2 linked regions of the Homo sapiens genome follow. The protein of the gene in region 1 interacts with the protein of each later gene in a pairwise test. Each region holds a gene or a part of one and is shown on either strand. Other genes may lie near its edges.

What was found.
Region 2: the proteins of CD244 (region 1) and CD48 interact in binary tests that used the Homo sapiens proteins (3 or more experiments, as listed by UniProt).

Annotation. Positions count from the first base shown.
Region 1 is NC_000001.11:160,831,860-160,839,159, reverse strand, and holds part of CD244 (natural killer cell receptor 2B4 isoform 1 precursor), read left to right. Parts: intron 1-110; coding exon 111-221; intron 222-641; coding exon 642-709; intron 710-2,905; coding exon 2,906-2,965; intron 2,966-5,043; coding exon 5,044-5,109; intron 5,110-6,440; coding exon of another isoform or gene 6,441-6,470; exon of another isoform or gene 6,471-6,584; coding exon 6,585-6,641; intron 6,642-7,300. UniProt on the Homo sapiens protein: Heterophilic receptor of the signaling lymphocytic activation molecule (SLAM) family; its ligand is CD48.
Region 2 is NC_000001.11:160,678,220-160,681,096, reverse strand, and holds the end of CD48 (CD48 antigen isoform 1 precursor), read left to right. Parts: coding exon of another isoform or gene 1-2; exon of another isoform or gene 3-670; intron 671-1,965; coding exon 1,966-2,045; 3' UTR 2,046-2,351; downstream 2,352-2,877. UniProt on the Homo sapiens protein: Glycosylphosphatidylinositol (GPI)-anchored cell surface glycoprotein that interacts via its N-terminal immunoglobulin domain with cell surface receptors including CD244/2B4 or CD2 to regulate immune cell function and activation.

The sequences.
Region 1 (7,300 bases):
GCCACAACACAGAGAAAAGTGGGTTTTGAGGCAGCCCCTGCAGCAGGCAGGTGGGAAGGAAGAAGAGAGCGAGCTGACAGCTCAGTTCTCACGCCTTCTGTATTCCTCAGAATTCAGATTTTGGCCGTTTTTGGTGATCATCGTGATTCTAAGCGCACTGTTCCTTGGCACCCTTGCCTGCTTCTGTGTGTGGAGGAGAAAGAGGAAGGAGAAGCAGTCAGGTGAGTGGAAGGTCCTTAGGGTGGTGCTCCTGCCTGAGGCCTTGGATCCTGTGACTTTGTCCTGCGTCCAGTGGGATGTGTCTGGGAGCACAGCATCTCCTTTTCCTCAACGAGCTTTGGTATGTTTGTGTGCGTGGTGGCGGGGGGCAAGCAGGTTGCTAGGCTCTCTCTCCCAGTTCATGCCTTCTGATCCCAATGCGCAGATTTCCCTGTAGACAGCTGGTTTGGGAGGAGGTGTGGGAGGGGCAGTTCGGTTGCTGCCTCTGTGCTCTTTGGGGTTCCTGGGAAGAGCATTAACTTGCCTCCTTTCTAGAACCTTTTTTAAGGTTTGGCCATTTGGGGTAGAGGTGGGACCTGTTAGAAGCAAAAGCCCTTCTGGAGGTTTCTGCAGCTCTGCTCTTTGTTTTCTTCCTCCCTCAGAGACCAGTCCCAAGGAATTTTTGACAATTTACGAAGATGTCAAGGATCTGAAAACCAGGAGAAATCACGTATGTCATCCCGGAGGCTGGGGTCTCTCTCAGCTGGCTTGGAAAATGCTCTTTCAATGATGGTTATTCAGAGCAGAGGGACAAAAAGGACTGAACGACTGTCCTTTTGATGTGACCCTCAGCCCTTCCCCATCTATCTTTTCTCCACCTGCTTCCTAGTTCTGGTGATGGAGGAAAAGAGGAAACAAAAGGAGCAGAGGAGATGAAAGGGAGGCTGAAGGGGCATCTTGGTGCAGAATTGCACCTGCTGAGAAGGGATGGAGCACAACAGAAATCAATGACAGAGGCAGAGTGCTGCTGTGGTATTTGTTGTCTGACCACAAATTCTTTTTCCTAATGAGTCAGGGCTTACATTCATGAGTCCCTTAATGGTGACACAGGCTGGGAAGTGTGACCAGCCAAAGCATAATAGTTTTGTAGCTGGCTCAATAGGCTGCATTCACAGCCTTTTGGAAGAAGAGGCCTGAGTGTGGCTGAGGTACTAGAGAGAGTAACCAGCCTGGCACAAAGCCCACCAGCCTGAGTAGGCTCCTCCAGGAGCCTCTCGCCTGCTCTTCGCAGCAGGCAGGGGCCAACTCTGCCTGTCATCCAAGAATTAGAAGAGGAGGAAATTGCAGAGGGCCTGCAGATGCCCCCACTGCTGTGTCTCGCTTAGGGCAGATGTGGTGACAGGCCCAGGGGAAAAGCTCTGATGGAGCCTACCAAACTGCTGGCAGGAAGTGGGGCAGGGTGGGTGAAGTGGGGCGGAAGTGCCTTCTTTCCACTGCCCCCTGGCGCTTTGCTGTGGAGACCCAGCAGCACGCAGGAAGCACATGTGGTGGGGCTCTTCCGTGCTGGCCACATACGTGAGGCCCTGTGCAGCCTCGCAGAGCAGGCAAGCATCCTCTCCCAGATGCCTCTGGGTTCAGAGGCTGTTAGAGCAGCTCCCCATGCCTGTTTTTTTATTTTTATCTTTATTTATTTATTTATTTTTGCCCCAGCAGTGGCTATGGGAATGTGAAAAATAAAGCAGTGGCTATTGGAATGTGAATAATAAAAGGGGACTTTGTTTCTCTCACTGCTACCAGACTCTGGTACAAATTCCTGAAAGCATGTGAATCTACCCACAGCCAGTGATGCCCGGGTGCTTGCTAAAAATAATCTATTTTTCCAAAAAGAAGATGACTTGAGATTAGGAGACCACAGGAGGAAAAACAACTTAGAGCAAAGGAAACCTCTTTGGGATTCAGGCCTATTAGCTTACTTCTTCCGACTCAAGAGCTCCTCCCTGCCTGGCCTCAGCCCTCTCTGGCCTCTCCCTATTGTCTCAGGGCTCCAATTTGAAGGCCTAAATCTCAAGTTTCATGTGGTCTCACTTTGAGACCCAGCTCTAATCTTTCTAGAAACACTTCACACGGGTCTGGACGGGAGAGAAAAGCAACAAACTCCTGCAGTATTTTAAAACACAAATGAAGTTATTGACATTGTCAGATGCCCATGACTCCCCAGCCTCTAAGGACAGCTGACAGTTCTCTGCTTCTCTTAGCTTCTTCTTGCTTCCAGGAATTTTGCTTGCACCTTGCCTAATGAACCCTGCTGCCTCCACTGGCTCCCAGTAGAACCCAAACTGGCAATATGCTTTCAGTGGCCGGCAGCATGAAATACCTCCACCACCGATTTCCTAAGGGGTAGGAACAAGAAAAGGGAAGCAGGAAGCTCTGCTTCCTGCTTTGGCCCTTGGGTTCAGGGCTGCACCCAGCACTATAGCTGCCCAGGGCGCTGACTTGAGGTCAAGGGCAAGGTGGCCTCAAAGATGATCTAGAGAGGGCTTAACTGTGTTTGGTCTTTGAAATGTTTAAACTTTCTGAATTTCAGTGCTCTGAGGTAAGGCTCAGATAACAGCCCTACTCAGAGCTCTGCAAGGAAGGGTTTCTAAGTTACTAAAGGAAAGAAAGTGACAGCATTCTCTTTGAGCAGGGTTGCTGGAACCCCTCACACCTAGGTGGTTCCTTGCTCCTGATACTAATGGTTCCACTCCAAACTGCTCTTCTTCCTGTCTCTTCCCATCTTGGGAGGATCAATGACTCTCCCCAGTCCTGCCACCTCCCTCCCAGTCTCCTGAAAAGCCCTCTTCTTTGTGCTGTTTTTCCCCACTCAATCTAAATCTGGACAGACCGAACTGTCGCTCATGTTACCCCATCTCCATTTCTTGTGCAGGAGCAGGAGCAGACTTTTCCTGGAGGGGGGAGCACCATCTACTCTATGATCCAGTCCCAGGTACCTCTCCAGTTTCTCTAGTCCATTCCATACCTATCTCTGGGGTTTCCTAATGCCCCCCTGAAACTCACACCATTGAATGGCAGAATAAGATCTTGGTGCTTCTAGAATCCAGAAGATAGCTTGGCTTCAGTTGCATTAACACATTATTTGAAAAGATCCGTGTGATACTAGAGCATCTTAACACAGCTGGGAAGCCTGATGTGGACATTCCTTCTTCTTCCGTGTCTGGCAGAAGGTCTGGCCCAGATAAAGTCTATAGGAGCAGAAACCTGGTTAGGGGACTCAACTTCTGCTTTCTTGCCCTGCTGCTGCTTCTAATACTTGGGGCCCTTGCACTTTTTATCCCTATTCCCTATTATATTCGTTTTCAGGAAAGAATGAATCTGCATTGATCTCTTTTATTTTATTATGACTTAGCAATAATGTCCATTTTCTTTTCTTTTAAAACAATTTTATTGTTTAGAGACAGGGTCTCTTTATTTATTTTTTATTTCCATAGGTTTTTTTGGGAACAGGTGGCATTTGGTGTCATGAGTCAGTTCTTTAGTGGTGATTTGTGAGATTTTTGGTATACCCGTTATGAGACAGGATCTCATTCTGTCTACCAGGCTGAGTGCAATGGTAGAATCATAGCTTACTGAAGCCTTGAATTCCCGGCCTCAAGTGATCCTCCCACCTCAGCCTCCTGGGTAGCTAGGTCTGCAGGTGTGTACCACTGCACCCAGCTGTATTTTCTTACTAAATCTCACATAACAGCCTCATGAAAATAGTTCTAATACTTTAGATGTGGTCTACATTCCATATCACAATGAGGAAACCGAGACTCAGGTCAACTGATATCTCAAGGCTACATAGCTAGGTAGTGGCAGAGCTGAGCCAAAGGGTTTCTGAGTCTCCATTGCACCTCCTCATACTCCACCTCTTATATTCTGGGATTACAGAAATTCACTCATAAACTGGAGAAGCATCCTTTAATACTGATGGCTAAAATGACATTGATAACCCAGGCTGGGACATCTCTCCCAAGGGAAACACTGCCTCCTGGTGGCCAGTAATAAAAGACTTTCTGATAAAAATGGCTTTAAAAAAAAGAAAAAAAAAATTGAGCACCATCTTCAGTTTGGTGGCTGAGCTGTGGGGCAAAGAAAATCTGATTATAAGAGCGGTTGATATCTGCCAGTTCTCTAGTTTCAGCCACATTGAACTCCAATGAGAGGAATTTCTATCAGTGCAAGAAAGAGGTCCCCTCAAACTATGGTGTTGGGTGAGAATGACAGTCCTCCTCTGGAGCATCTTAAAAGGAGAATGTTTACCTGATTTAGAGGACACCTGGTTCCAGTCCAGGGAAGGGAGGCAAGTTGCCAAAGGGAGGCATTGAGGTGTTGAGGAAAGAGCCCTGGAGAGTCTTGGGTTTGAATTCTGCTTCTACTGTGTACGCACTGCCTGACTTGGGCTATTTATCCTTTTGGAGCCTCATTTGTGGCATGGGGCAAATTATGATCATTCTTATTTTATAGGAGTGTTAAAAGAGTTAGAGAAGAGGCCAGGCGCGGTGGCTCATGCCTGTAATCCCAACACTTTGGGAGGCCGAGGCGGGCGGATCACGAGGTCAGGGGTTTGAGACCAGCCTGGCCCACATGGTGAAACCCTGTCTCTAAAAATACAAAAATTAGCTGGGCATGATGGCAGGCACCTGTAATCCCAGCTACTCAGGAGGCTGGGGCAGGAGAATTGCCTGAACCCAGGAGGCAGAGGTTGCGGTGAGCCAAGATCGAGACATTGCACTCCAGCCCAGGCAATAGAGCGAAACTCTTGTCTCAAAAACAAATAAACAAAAAAACAGTTAGAGGAGAATACATGTATAAGATAAATGCTCAACAAATAGAAGCTTTCATTAATGACAGAGCGAGACTAGCACTCAGGTTGTCTGACCTCCTGGCTAGTCCAGGGCTCTTTTCACTAACACTTGAAGCTTCCATCTGGGCAGGGTTGAGGAGGAGAAACGGAAGAGATAACCTTTGTAAGATTGTGCTGGATCTGTGCTTCTGAAATGATTTTATTTCTCTTCTCATTAGTCTTCTGCTCCCACGTCACAAGAACCTGCATATACATTATATTCATTAATTCAGCCTTCCAGGAAGGTGAGCCTCTTCCCGTGGTGGTGGTGGGGTGTTGTTGATGTAGATGTGTATTTTGCATGTGTTTGCAGTGAGAGTGTGTGTGCACATCCTGGCAAGTTGTTCTTTATTGTGTGTATCTGAGTAGCTTCTGTTAAATGACTGTATTTAAATGTCAATGGGCCAATGAGAAATGCCTTACTGGTTCTGTCTGGAGAAAAATAACAGCTTCTAGACTAAGAGAACAGTAGACTAGATGAGTTTTTGGGAGTTTCTGTGGGAGGTAAAGGACAGTCAGAGACAGAAAGGAGGTGCTTTGCACAGAGAGACTACGGGGTACTTAGTAGGTCAGCTGAGGCTATGGTGAGAGATACTGGAGGGGTTTGCAAGGCAGGGCATATTGCCTGGAGCTGGAGGAGTAGACTGGATCTAGAGAGACACAATCTTGACCTTCAGAGACCAGAGAAAGGTCCTGGCCAGTCAGTCACCTGCTGGTGGAGGCCTCTGGACTGAGGCAACCCATCCTTTTGCACTGAAATCCTTCTCCAAGCTGAGTTCGTAGCTCTCTTGTGTACTTGGAAACAGAGTTGGGTATCCTGGTACACATGGTCATTGTTTTTCTCTTGTATGGAAGGGGATGGGAAGAGTGGTGTTCCCAAGGCTGGAGCCACAGTGTGAAGCCAGAAAGCCTTAACATGGTAGTATGGGAATTTGGGAGTCCACACAACTGTGGAAGTCCATGCAGGTCAGGGACCACAGGTTTGAAGGGGTTTAGGACAGATTTTCAGACTTTTCATTCAACCTCCTTCCAATAAGCCATTCAACCTACTTGGATCCCATCGTGAGAGAGATTTGTTTTTAATTATATGCTACAATATAAGGCCATATAGATGTTCACAGGCACCATGTTCACCTGCTTTGGTGTATGTAAACTCTATATGCTACTGAATGTGCCTCTGAATTCTAGTGTCCTTGGGTTGGCAATTATTTATATGCCTGGATTGTTTACATTAAGGGTGTGTGTATGCATGCGTTGAAGAGATACATGGTTTGGGGCAGTATTTGCATTAGGATTGCCTGAGGGATATGTGTGTATGTGTATGTGTATGTGTATGTGTATGTGTGTGTGCTCTGGGAATGTGTGTGTGTATATATATACACAAATATGTATATATATGTGTGTGTGTATATATATATATATATACACACACACACACATATGTGTATGGGTTTTAGGTGTATGTGGGTATGGAACAGCAAATTCTGATTTTGGTTCAGAAATATCATATTATAGGCAAATACTGTATATATTGTGTCTTCCCTGGAGACCATAAACACCATTGTTTTGCTCCTAGGGTGACAGATTCTATTCATTTTCTGGCTGAGAGTGCCTCAGAATTTTTCTGGGCCCTGAGTCTCTTTTGGGACCTCTCACATCACTTAGGAGTGGGAGAGCACTTATCTCGAAGTTAAGTATTCTTTACCTTCTGAATTTCTAGTCTGGATCCAGGAAGAGGAACCACAGCCCTTCCTTCAATAGCACTATCTATGAAGTGGTAAGATTCTGGAACTCCTCAATGGGTTTACTGTCTGTTGCATAGCCCTGAAATCTAGCCATGAAAGGGTACACTTAGGAAAAGATCATTCACACAGTCTCAGAGTTGTAGGGAATTTAGAGATCTTCTAATGCAAGTCTTTGTTTTAGAGATGAAGACACTGAAGCCCAAGGAGAGTGAGGGTCTGACCCAAGATCATATTGCGTGTTTAGATATGATACTTACTGGGCAGCTTGGGTTTTAAATTAGGGCCGTCCCCGAGCTAGTTCCCAGGCTGTGGGCCACAAACTGGACATCTCTCCTTTCCAAGAGTGTTCGGAGGAGGGGTCAGAGAGGGGAAGATAAAGGACTCTAAATGATTTTCTAAAATTAGCAAGTCTTTGGGAGCCATTCCAGGACATAGGTGAGCTTAATCTTCTTCAGGGGTCAACACTGTTCAGAGATGACCACTGAGCCTGGTGGTTGAATTGATTCCCATCAGAGCATTTAGGGACTGGAAAGGAGGGACTCAACATTTCTTGGGGGTTTATTATGGATAAGGTAGCCTGCCAGTGTCTTCACATGGATTATTTTATTTAGTCCTCACAGAATGCTACAAGATAGGTATAATTATACTTTCCATTTATACTCAGAGAAATTAAGGCATGGAGAGCATCCCC
Region 2 (2,877 bases), 150 kb from region 1:
GAATCCCTAAGGTGTCTGGGAGAGCTGGGAGACGTGGGTTCTGCCACCAGCTCTACCACCACCTCCCAGCCAGCTTACCTCAACTTCGTGGGGGCTCAGTGTTCTCACCTGCAAAGGACGTTTGGGAGAGATCTCTGATACTCCTCTTCCCTCTCCCGCTCTAACAAAGCATAGTCCTAACATCTGAGGCCAGGGTCATCATAGAGTAGACTGAAACATCAGGGTGAGCAGGGAGAAGGAAGGGCAAGTGGGCGAGCAGCTGTCTAGAGGGGCTTCATTAGACAGCCGAAGTCAGCCAAGGAAAGAGGGACCGAGGTCATTAGACCGCCAAAGTCAGCCAGGGAAAGAGGGACTGAGGAGACGGGCCTGAGAGAGGCCGTCGAGGAGGCGTGAGAGCCTGAGCCTCAGGCGAAGCTTCTCCTCCCCAGCCTGATGTTCCTAGATGAACTTAGGAAGCCAGATTCCCCTGTCTCCTGGGAGGATCCACTCATGAGTGTCACACCTGGCTCTAGATCAGGCCTACACTGGTGCTAGCATGGGACAGCTAAGGCCATGGGTTTTAGAGTCAGTCATACCTGGGGTCACTTCTAGGACTGTCACTTACTAGCTAAACAAGTTACTTAGCTTCCCCAAGTCATGTTCTTCCTAAATAAAGGACAAAATAACAGTTCCTATCTCGTGCTAAGGATTCAATGAGACAAGACACGTAACTGCCTATCACAGTGGCTGACAAGTCCTTAGTAAGCGGGAGCTAAATGAGACGCAGTCTCTTAGAGTTTTGGGGACCCTTAATAAACTTGGATCAATATCTCCAGCACTCTGGGAAATACCAGAGTCAGATACCCTCCACAATCCTGAAGTCAGATCCCTGAGCCCTAGCGTACACATTCTTCTAGAATAACTCAGACCTGAGGTGCTCACATTCACCTGTGACCCCTGTCATGCCCAGTCATCAGGGATTCTGGCCTCTGAGAACGTTGCTGTTTTGTGGTCTTCCTGGGCTCTGTCTACCCTCCTTAACTGCACTGATTTCTTTATCTCTACTCCCACATGTGGACTACGGAGACTGTGTATGCTCTTCCTTATTCTTCCTAACTAATTGGCCCTGTCTCTACCAGCCTCTCCTGATATGCCTTGCTCTTCTGCCACCACAGACCCACTGTGACAGTGTGGTATCTGACCATGAGAACACAATTTGGCTGGTGGTTCCAACACCACCCTCATATCAATATCACATCCTGAGATCCAGAAAAAGGAAGACGCACATTCCCTGTCCTCTATAAAATGGGTGTGACTGTTCATCCGAAGAGAGGATAAAAGCAATAATAAATCCATTTTTTTTGGAAGGGTAAACCCATCTGTCACTTTTTAGTCACCGAAATTATCCTAGAAAGCCCCCTCAAACTCCTTTCCCTACTGTATCACTCATTCCTTTTTTTTATTTTCTCCAGCTCAGCCCTTCCCCACCCCAGCATCTAAGCTTTCCTTCCATCCTTTTTCTTTTCCTTTCCTTTTCTGTCTTCCTTTCTCTTCCCTTCTTCTTCCTAGTTGGTGCAGATACTTAGTGGGGTAGAGAAACAAGGAAAGGAAGTGGTCCTTTTCTCTCTAAAGTCAGCTGTGCATTGTATCATGTGGTCATCTGTCTGTACCTGAAGATCTACCCTACCTCGTTGATGTCCAGAGTAGGGGAGCAATGCTTTCCCAGGCCACAGATATGTCGAGGTAACCTTTGAGCACAGGGCCCAGGTAAGCCAGTGATATTTAAGGAATTTCTGCATTTTTTATACTTTATGTTTGGGGAGATTGAGGAAAAGAATGTCCCAGCCAAATAGGATGGGATTCAGGGAAGAAATTAATTTCCCTGCTCTGTGAGCTCCCACACCAGTGTCCAGTACACTTGCCCCTTCTCAATACATTAGTCAAGATAAAGATACCTAAGCATATAGGGTTTTCTTGCTCTTTCAGCCCGGTCCTTTGGAGTAGAATGGATTGCAAGTTGGCTAGTGGTCACGGTGCCCACCATTCTTGGCCTGTTACTTACCTGAGATGAGCTCTTTTAACTCAAGCGAAACTTCAAGGCCAGAAGATCTTGCCTGTTGGTGATCATGCTCCTCACCAGGACAGAGACTGTATAGGCTGACCAGAAGCATGCTGCTGAATTATCAACGAGGATTTTCAAGTTAACTTTTAAATACTGGTTATTATTTAATTTTATATCCCTTTGTTGTTTTCTAGTACACAGAGATATAGAGATACACATGCTTTTTTCCCACCCAAAATTGTGACAACATTATGTGAATGTTTTATTATTTTTTAAAATAAACATTTGATATAATTGTCAATTAACTGAATTCCTGAAGTTGTCCCAAATCTGTCAGACAGTGCCTGCTCCATCAGCTGGGAGAAACTGGAATCTGGAGACACAGAGGGGAGAGCCTGGAGCCACCGGCTCCTGTGTGTCAACACAGCTGAGGAGCCAATTTGTGCTACTTCTGACCCTTATTCCAACATCCATGCTAAGCTTCCTGGGGCTCCAGCTCCCCTGCCAAGCCTTTGCCTCCTTCCCAGTGGCTTGCCTTGCTCTGACCCCTCTGAGGACCACTCTCCTTAAGTCTGCTGCAAACATAGGTTCAGGCTTGCTCTCGCAGAAGGAAGGATGCAGCTCTATCTCATAAGAAGCCTTCCTGCCCCACAAGCCTCGCATAGGGAGCTGAATTCTCTCTCCTCTTTTCCATTGACTGTGTGGGCAAGTCTTCAACTCCTAGTCGTTTCACTGGATCCAAAAAAACCATCAGATCGACACAGTGTTCTCACCAGAGTTGTCCACTATATGCAGGTAGGCGCCCCCAGGCCCACCACTGACATAACACCTGGGAT